2 separate regions of the Homo sapiens genome follow, and region 1 is linked to region 2. Evidence: fine-mapped expression QTL. A gene starts in region 2. The other region holds a variant in brackets. All regions are shown on one strand. Distances are from middle to middle. Region 1 overlaps CAPN7 (calpain 7). Region 2 holds the start of SH3BP5-AS1 (SH3BP5 antisense RNA 1).

The links. PIP is the estimated chance that this variant, and not a neighbour inherited with it, causes the effect. A credible set is the group of variants that fine-mapping cannot tell apart.
Region 1: its variant is the best candidate, but not a certain one, in a credible set for the expression of SH3BP5-AS1 in blood mononuclear cells (TOPMed, PIP 0.57).

Annotation. Positions count from the first base shown.
Region 1 is chr3:15,220,413-15,225,412 of GRCh38, reverse strand. CAPN7 (calpain 7) reads right to left here. Exons shown (of 21, transcript NM_014296.3): 5 at 4,432-4,632; 6 at 1,852-1,938. Among named protein-coding and RNA genes, the nearest start is that of CAPN7, 17 kb to the right of the region's middle. The variant C/T (reference allele first, on the strand shown) is at 1,949.
Region 2 is chr3:15,251,353-15,256,456 of GRCh38, reverse strand. It overlaps SH3BP5-AS1 (SH3BP5 antisense RNA 1), which reads right to left and starts at 2,273. Exons shown (of 3, transcript NR_046084.1): 1 at 1-2,273. It overlaps CAPN7 (calpain 7), which reads right to left. Exons shown (of 21, transcript NM_014296.3): 21 at 3,541-5,104. It overlaps SH3BP5 (SH3 domain binding protein 5), which reads left to right. Exons shown (of 9, transcript NM_004844.5): 9 at 154-2,104. The coding sequence ends at 371.

The DNA.
Region 1 (5,000 bases), 31 kb after region 2:
AGTTTACATCTCTATTTGAATATTGTCAAGAAAATACCAGAATAACTGATTCATTTTCACAATTATAACAACAATGATAAATCGCTTTCGTACGAATTTTTGAGTATATCTCTAAATAGTTCCTTACAACTGGATTCCTGAAGTAAAATCATTAGTCAAAGAGGTATAAAAAATGTTAAAGTATTTGGAATATACAGCCAAATTGTTATATAACTTAGTAACTAACAAAATGATGATTTTTCTAGCAGGTAACCTTTATTATATAGTGCTTGCTATATAACAGCACCATTCTCAGGGTTTTACATTTTATTAACTCACAGTAACATTATGAGGTAGTTTCTATTATTATCCCCATTTTACAGACAAGAAACTGAGACAGATTTAACAACTTGCCCGGTGTTACACAAGGTTTGAGACCAGAAAGTCTGGCTCTAGAATCTTTCCCTGAACATTAATGCTATAAAGTTTCTCAGATATAAAAATTCCTTTGGTCCCAATCAGTTACTAGCATCACACAGCTACCTGAGTGAAAAAAATATGTTAACTGGCTTTGTGATACCTAACCCTTGGCAAAAGAACAGCAAAACACTAGAAAATAAAAAGCAGCCCTTTTGTTCTTTACAGAGCCTTCATATTCTATATAGTAAGCATCCAGCTTTTTTTTTCTAATAATAAATATAACATGCTCATTGGAGAAATTTTGAAAAATAAAAAAGTACTGAAAGAGGTTAAATCACAAAATTTTGTTACCTAGACATAACCACTGTAAATATTCGGGTATATTTCTCCACATCATTTTTTTTTTCTATGCATCTATAAATACATGAAAAGAAAAAGAAGGGTCAGGCACAGTGGCTCACATCTGTAATCCCAGCACTTCGGGAGGCTGAGGCAGATGGATCACTTGAAGTCAGGAGTGCAAGACCAGCCTGGCCAAAATGGTAAAATCTCGTCTCTACCAAAAATACAAAAATTAGCTGGGCGTGATGGTGCATGCCTGCGGTCCCAGCTATACAAGAGGCTGAGGTGGGAGAATCACCTGAGCCTGAGAAGTCAAGGCTGCAGTGAGTCATGATCACATCATTGCACTCCAGCCTAGGCAATGGGAGTGAGACCCTATCTCAAAAAAAAAGAAAAAAAAAAAAAATTTGGGACATCATAATTTTCTTTTTGATTTCTGTAATGGGAACATTTTTTTTCCTACAGTTTTAAATACTTATTTTGAGTAGCATAATATTTGACTGTATAGATGTACTATTATTTAATCATTCCCATATTGCCAGTTTGTTTCAATAATTTTTTGCTGCAACAGATGCTTTGATGAGTGTCCTTATTATGTACATCTTTGACTGTTGATTTCCTTACGATGACTACAAGCTCGGACTCCTGAACCAAACAATATTTTTAAAGCTCTTGACATAAGCTGCCATTGTCCTGGAAGGCTGTGCTAACTAATTCTCTCATAAATAGTCCTTGCTTGAATTGGTCTTCTTAGTAAACAATGACATCATTCCATTCCCCTTTTCCATTCAGTTTCTTTACTGTGTGTTAGAATTTCTGTTGTGATTCAATCACTGCTTGGACAAATATTTACGGAGTACTTACTTTACACCAGGTACTGTGCTAGACACTACAGAAATAATATTAGGCAAAAGGAGATCCTCATGTCCTCATGACTGGGCAAATAACAAAAGTGCTCTTGCTATGTTGCCCTATCCCTTTCCCACAGCCACCCCTCTATTCCAACAAATTTTTTTATTACAAATTTTAATTTCAAGGCTATTAAATTGAACTTCAGAGTACTGAAAAGTTAAAATATTGGAGTTAAAAATTGCAACAGTGCTTACTTACCAGAAAGGCATTGGATAGGCAAAACGTTCTCTCAGGTCAACATTCATGAAAGGAACATATTCTATACCATTTATTTTTGATGTTGTCCTATCAAACA[C/T]GAGAAAAAAACCTAAATGTTCAAGTTTACCTTAATTGCCAATCTTATTTCAACTCTTTAAAATTTAAATGACAAGGTATGATACTGTATTAAAATTAAACTGACAACCTCATGTTGTTGATATATCTTTGGACAATATTTTCATAAAATAATTGAAAATCAGAAAATAACTGAATCAATTCAAACCAATAAGAATATTCTTTAAAGGCTAACACCCACAAGAAGACAAGACTATTCAAGAGGTAATGAAAGTGTCCTTGACACCAAGACACAAAACCAATTCTATGCTAAGCCTAAAGGGAGAAATCAATTGCTTAAGTTATTTTGGAATTAAAAAAACACATTAACAATTCTGAAATACATGCTCTTCACGTTTTCTGGTTATGAGGACATGAAATGGGTAGTGGAAGAAGGAAGTGTCATAGATATCAGCTATGGTCTACTGACAAATTAAAGAAATAAGGTTTGTAGTAGCTTTGCATTCTCCTTGTTTTGTGTATATGCTTATTTATCTATATTAACTATTTCCTTCTTGTATCTGTTTCTCTCCCTTATTCTATTTATGAGATGTTGCAGAGTAACTTCAGAATTTAGTCTTTAGGTAACAATAGCCTGGAAATCTGAGGACTACTTAATATAGTCAGGAATAGATGAAATGATTGTTGGGACTATGTACAGCCTTATTTTGGAAAGATAATGAAAACTTTTCACTCGCATGAAGGATAGCTGCATTTTGTTAGGTGGAATATAGAGTTGTTCTGGTGTAGTACAGAATTTCAAACATGTGAAGGTAGCATATGGAAAAGTGTTGGACTGTTATTAGTCTTTTAGCTTCAAAACTACCCTTCTTTGTCCTGTATTGTGCTGTGTTGGTGCACATGCAATTTTTCCTAGACAAAGGGAGCCAGATTAGCAGGAGTACAATTACAATCTTCAGCAGGAAAGGAAAGAAAAATGCTCTCAGATGGCTGCTACCTAGGCAGAAGCCCTTTCAGCTCAATTTTAGAAAATAAAAAGATGAACACCTACATGACTTACACAGCTCTAAGCAGACTGAACTTTCTGCAGTGCTCAACTTTAAAAAAGCCACCCTGTCTGGCTCAGGGACTTATCCTAGCTACACTGGTTCAGAGGGCAATCAAGAATTTCCACATTATTGTGTTTCACATTTCATTTTTTTTTGGTACAGCTCCTTGTGGAACAGGGCTACTCCATAGGCAGTGTGCCCAGAGTAGCCGTGTTTTACATTTTTAATATCCTCTGAGACTGCTTTCAGACACGCTATAACCCCCGCTAGACAGGGGGTCGGCAAATGTTTTCTGTAAAGAGCCATATGGTATATAGCTTAGGCTTTGCAATGAGGTTTCTGTCATATATTCTTTTTTTTTTTTTTTGATGCATGTAAAACCTTTCAAAGAAAAACTTTACATATATATATACGTATACGTATACTATATACGTATATGTATACGTATGTATATACACGTGTATACACACATATTTTTTTTTTTGAGACGGGATCTCCCTCTGTTGCCCAAGCTGGAGAGCAGTGGCGTGATCTCGGCTTTGCAACCTCCACCTCCTGGGCTCAAGTGATCCTCCCAAGTAGCTGGGATTACAGTGCACATCATCATACCCAGCTATTTTTTGTATTTGTAGTAGAGATGGGGTTTTGGCATGTTGCCCAGGCTGGTCTCAAACTCCTGAGCTCAAGTGATCTGCCCCCCTCTGCCTCCCAAAATGCTGGGATTGCAGGGGTGAGCTGCCAGCACACCACCTACACTCCTATTTCAAAGTAACATTTTTTCTCCCATTAGGGCTCTGGTTACAAAGTTGCATAGATTAAGAGTGGTCTGCTACAGCTCATTTTGCTCCTTAACCTTTAGTGGCTCAGTTTCACAGAATGCTAGGATTTTCAGCAAAGTGTATTATGTCTAGCAAAAACGCTAATATTAAAATATACTGGAACTAAAGCCGGGCACAGTGGCTCATGCCTGTAATCCCAATACTTTGGGAGGCCGAGGTGGGCGAATCACCTGAGGTCAGGAGCTCGAGACCAGCCTGGCCAACATTATGAAACCCTGTCTCTACTAAAAAAAAAAAAAAAAAAAAAAAAAATTAGTCAGATGTGGTGGCACACACCTGTAGTCCCAGCTACTTGGGAGGCTGAGGCAGGAAAATCGCTTGAGCCCAGGAGGCAGAGGTTGCAGTGAGCCAAGATCACACCACTGCACTCCAGCCTGAACAACAGAGTGACACTCTGTCTCAAAAAATACAAATGAAAATAATAAAATAAAATAAAATATATCAGAACTAAAATTTTAACTATTTCAAGTTGTGACTACATGATGATATAATTACATAATAACAGCACAATACACTATAGGAGAAATCTGAATACAATTCAGCAAACCTAATGAAAATAAAATTCTGCATTCATGTTAACAAAATTCTTCATTACAATTAATTGTAAACTTATTTACCTGAGTACTTCTATTTCTTCTGCTGTGTATCTCTGTCCTTGTGCATCACATGACTGAGGACTTATAAATGACTGAGGTCTTTCAAGGAAGGGATTAGCGCCCAGTGGAAAATGTGCTCTCACTGGAGGTGGCTTTGGCTTAACACTTGTTGAACTGATTTTGCCAACTGGCTTGGTCAAAGGCTCACTCAGCGCTTCTGCTCTATAACAGAGAGGAACAAACAACTGTTCTAGTTTTTCTACTCACATTTAAGCTTTTCAGGAAACAAAATTTACTTGAAGAACCAGTCAAGCATCCCTAATGTAAAATTAGTATATAAAATTCTTACATACTAATCAACATTTCACTACTTCAGCTACTTCCAAAGATAAGCATCTTTTACAAACAATATTCTATTGACAACATTAATTAAGCACTTACATAATCAGACACCATACAAGGTAAGGTAAGTGGTATAAAAGAACGTATAAAACAATCCCTACCCTTAAGGTACTCATAGTTTTGTAGGGAAAGACAGACAACTGCATCAAAAATAACAGATACTAGGATGAAAGTATTACATGCAAATG
Region 2 (5,104 bases):
ACAGTGGGACTTCTACAGGGCTGAGTTAGCTGACTGGTTTGAGCTCAAGTGACTTAGAATTGTCAATACTCACTTTTGATAATCTTTGTATTTCTATAGGAGACAGGGCAGAATTGTCAATACTCACTTTTGATAATCCTTGTATTTCTATAGGAGACAGGGCAGAAGGGGCAGAGAATAAAACAAGTGACAAAGCCAACAACAACCGGGGCCTCAGCAGTAGCAGTGGCAGTGGTGGCAGCAGTAAGAGCCAAAGCAGCACCTCCCCTGAGGGCCAGGCCTTGGAGAACCGGATGAAGCAGCTCTCCCTACAGTGCTCAAAGGGAAGAGATGGAATTATTGCTGACATAAAAATGGTGCAGATTGGCTGATTCATCCTGGGCCCTGGCCGATGTGCATATCAACATTTATACATGGAACTGGAGAACATTGTGCCAATAATCATTTAATATATGCCAAATCTTACACGTCTACTCTAAACTGCTCTAATGAAGTTTCAGTGACCTTGAGGGCTAAAGATTGTTCTTCTGGGTAAGAGCTCTTGGGCTGGTTTTTCAGAGCAGAGTTCTTGTTGTGGGTAGACTGTGACTAGGTTCACAGCCTTTGTGGAACATTCCGTATAACGGCATTGTGGAAGCAATAACTAGTTCCTATGAAAGAACCAGAGCTGGGAAGATGGCTGGGAAGCCAGGCCAAAGTGGGGGCAACAGCTTGCTTCTCTTTCTCTTCTCACCCTCAGTTTGTATGGGAAAATGGAGATGTCCTCTCCACTTTATCCCACGATATCTAAATGAAAAAGAAAGAAAACCCACACACAAAGCAAAAACTCAAGTATTAAGAGCACATATTTTTGACCCAGTGGAGGCTTAAAAAAAAAAAAATCCAAGAACACAATTCATTTTCACCACCTCTGGTGTTCAGAGGGGGCTTTTAAAAAAGCGTGTATGCTGGGATACCCATTAAAACCATTTTCTAGAAGGCTACCATGAGCTGCACTTTTTGGGGTGGGAAAGGTGAATGCCAGTGGGGATGCGGGGGGATGAGGGTAGGAGGGACTTATAGAAGGGGATTTGTGGCTGTGGGGGAGAAGGTTCTACAGCATAAGCCTTATCCTGCCAGCCAAGGGGATTTATTCTAAGAGAAGTGCATGTGAAGAATGGTTGCCACTGTTATTAGATTGACAAGATGTTAATTTCTCTGTAGGTTGTAACTTTAAAAATAAATGAAATTATTTAAGGGTTATGCTGCACTAGTATTCCTTAGAGGAAACAGTTCTTTAAAGTTAGGAAAGGGAGTAGGCAGGCATGTGTTGGCAAAGGCTGTTAATAGTAGTTAAGTGTTAAGACTGCTTTTCTTTAACGTTTTCATGGTAATGCATATTTAGAGCACTGTATTTTTGTCTTGTTAAGAAAATTTAGCATTTCTAAAAGAAAAAAGCAACCCTCTTTCAAACTGTTAATTCTGTCACAGCCTGTATATTTTAGTCATTTGTAAATCTCTTCATACAATAGTGACTTCTTTTTTGACTGATACAGTATCTTAATTACAAGGTTATTTTGTACTTGTCTTAATACACTAAGTGTAATAAAAACGGCTTGAGAAAAGTTTCTCCTTTCTGTGACTTCAAATAAGAACTCCCAGTATTGCCTAAATCTTCTAGGCAACCCTTTTTCCATAAGGAAGAGCATGGAGTGCTGTGGTCACCAGTAATCATTTTCAATTAATTAAGGTCATGAACAGTAATAATTTAAGCCTTGTTTACCAAGGTTTGAATTCTACTTTTGCTGTTGCTAAAGCTGTGGGCAATGAGGAGACACAGTGGCAGATAAAGACGAGGTGGTGACGCTGGAGGAGTGGGCCTCGGCTGCACACTGCAGTCTCGAAGCTTAAGTGTTGCTGTCAGTCAGTTCTCATCCCCAGAGAATTATTTAATTAATTAACTGGGGGGGGTACACTGGGGCATTAGACTTTTAAAAGCTCCCCGAGGGAATTCAAATGTGCATTCAGAGTTGAGAATCAGATGGATTCTTTCTTTTGTGGAAATGTTTTATAATATTGGACTCTTAATCCGCATTTCATTATTAAAGCATGCTGTGGAGAAAAAGTTCTTGGTTGGCCAATCATGAGGTTTAAGTTTCAGAAATAACCCTTTGCAGTATCAAACAAGTGTTTTACCTAGTAGTTAATAAATATTTCATCTAGGAAAGTTCATAGAAGTCCCTTGTGCTATTTAAGAACATTAAACAGCCGGCTGGGCCCAAGGGCTCATGCCTGTAATCCCAGCACTTTGGGAGGCCAAGGCTGGTGGATCACTTGAGCCCAGGAGTTCGAGACCAGCCTGGGCAACATAGTGAAACCCAGTCTTTACCAAAAATACAAAAATTGGCCAGTCTTGTAATTTGGGTCTCAAGCAAGAACACTTAACAGCATACCTGAATTTGACTAGTGACCTTCAGGGTTCATTCAGTTCTCATAAAATCTCCTTACACCCTTTTACCTGTAGTAAAGACACTGAGACTTGCTTGACTTACCATTAGCAAAAACTTCCCTGCAATTGAGGCAATTCTTTTTCCTCCTAGAAGAAACACCATCTGGAAAATAGCCCAAGCTAGGATAAAGTTTTTACAGCAGAGTCAAGTTATACAGTCTAATAACTAGAAATTTCTAGGTACTTCTCGCAGAGAATGAAAGTGGGAAGGAGTTTTCTAACACTGGGGCTTTCTTTCCCTTGTCTTTACAAAAGACAAAGCCTAGGCAGTCAGTCAGTAGCACTAGAGTATTCCTTATGGGCATTAAGAATTTCTCTTGTTTCCTGCCTCAATCCCCCTTTCCCATCAGCCTACCACTTGCTTGTCTCCTACACCAGAAAAGGATGCAGACCACCTTTTGACCAGGGCTCCCTTCTCACACTATCACCTAGTCAAATTTCTAGTTTTACGTAGTCTGCCCCTACTGCTGTCACTGTGGCCTCTTTATCTCCACCACATCTGACATTTAATTATACTCTTCTGGGAATTCTGTTCACTGGGCTTCTTAATCCTCCCCCAACCCTCGTTTTCTTGTATCTCCTGTTAGTCTATGTATTTTTTTCTAAATTAGAAATACTTTCTAAAAAACTTCCCCCAAATCAGTTCTTAACCATCTTTAGTTCACGTGACTCTTGACTTTTTGGGTGATCTCACTTACTATACCACGTTGATTCCAGATCTGGATTTTCTGGGCAATTTAATGTGTCAAAACTTACCTTTCACTGAAGCTATGAGCATCTGTCCATGTGCTGAATTAGAAACTTGAGTCATCCTCTCTAACAATTCAACTGGTCTGTCTGTTATTTAGAACCTCCAAAAGGCCTGGATTGTTTTTCCTCCCTCTACAATGGGTCTAGATCTTGTCCCTCCCTCGACTAGACGGCCGTGACTGTGGGTGCCATTAGACACACACAGCAGCTCAATCAGGGCTCAGGGAAGAAGGCTTGTGAACCCTGGGCAAAATCTTTTAATCTCTTAGGCTTATTTCCTCAATTGTAAGAAGTACAAATAATAGTATCTATACTTTATTCAGCTATTGGGAAGATTAAAAAGAAAAATATACACATTGGGTACATAGTAAACACTCAATGGTCAGTAACCTGTCTTTTGAAGCTTTACCTTCAAGGTCCAAGTTAAAGTATCAATTCTTCAAATACAATTTTTTATATTGGTCCAGCCAAAATTAATCTTTCCCTTATTCATACACTGGTGGCATGTTTTTAGAGCTCTATTATAGAAATCAGTGCCTTTAAGTTGTTCATATATAGGTCTCTTCTAATAAATTTGATGGCAGGGATTAGGTTTTTAGTTTGCATCCTGTACAAGATCTTTACCACAACAGGTTCAAATCATGTGTTCATAATATAGTTCTTATGTTCTGGATTTTTTCTTTTTAAAAAGTAACAGAAAACTTGTTAAATTTGTCCACCTAAAATTAATAGGCTAAAACTGAAAGCATGAAGTATTTACCAAAGTGAAATCTCATTAGTGTAATAATCTACCACTACTCTGTTAAAGAACAGATTTTTGTTGAAGTATATATTTTCATGCAAATAATCTGTTCTCATTTACATGAAACACGACAGATGAAATCTTTCAATAAATCTAACTTAAACTATGCAATATCCGTAAGTATAAACATTTTATTTCAATTTAAGGTAGTAGCAATACAAAATAAGTTTTGATAATTATAAAGTAGAGACAATGAAAAATCCCACCCTATTTTTAGAATTTTAAAATATTGAGCATCATTCTGTCCTGATGGGTTTTTATGTAAAGTGGGAATTTACATGACACCAGTATCTTGGCAATTCACTTTTTTTGAATGCTACATATCCCAATCACCATATATTAAATTCTCTATTTTCTTCAAAGTGCTATTGCCACAAGAGACTGAACGATACAGCAATTTAAAAAAAGACCACACAAACTAAATTGTAATGTCTTCAATATCTCAATTACTGTTTTTTAAAAATAAAAACTGCAGTAGTGAATTTCTTTAAGTTCTTGCTACATGATTGAATGGGAGATAACCTCAACAATTTTCATTCTTAGGCATGAGCATCTTCATGCTAAGGTAGTCTATACTTAAAAGCTTTATTCTTTCATAACACCTGGGCAACAAATATTTTAAAATCATAAATAATGCAAAATTAAAATCAGTTATGGTGGCACAATTCATTTGGTAACTAGTTGCCCAAGATGTATAGTAGAATCAAGCAGGTTTAACTTCCACATGCTCTGCAAAAAAGGGAAACAATGGAAATATTTCGGTATATTAATCTAGCCCACTATTCCACTCAAGGAATCTATATCCTTTCTTTTTCTCATCTGGTCTCAGTTCCTTTATCCTCTTAGCAAAGGCATCTCACAGTGATGACTGAGTCTAATTTTAATCATATGCACTTTTTATACAAAATGGCCCCTAAAATGCAAGCCAACTCTATATACACAAAACCATGTAAACGGTACCTCTAGGTGATTTAGGTAATTCTGACTATATACAGTTCTTACCAAACACCCTGACAAGCACCAGATTCCACTGTAACACGTTTTTAGAGATTTAATTCCATTCT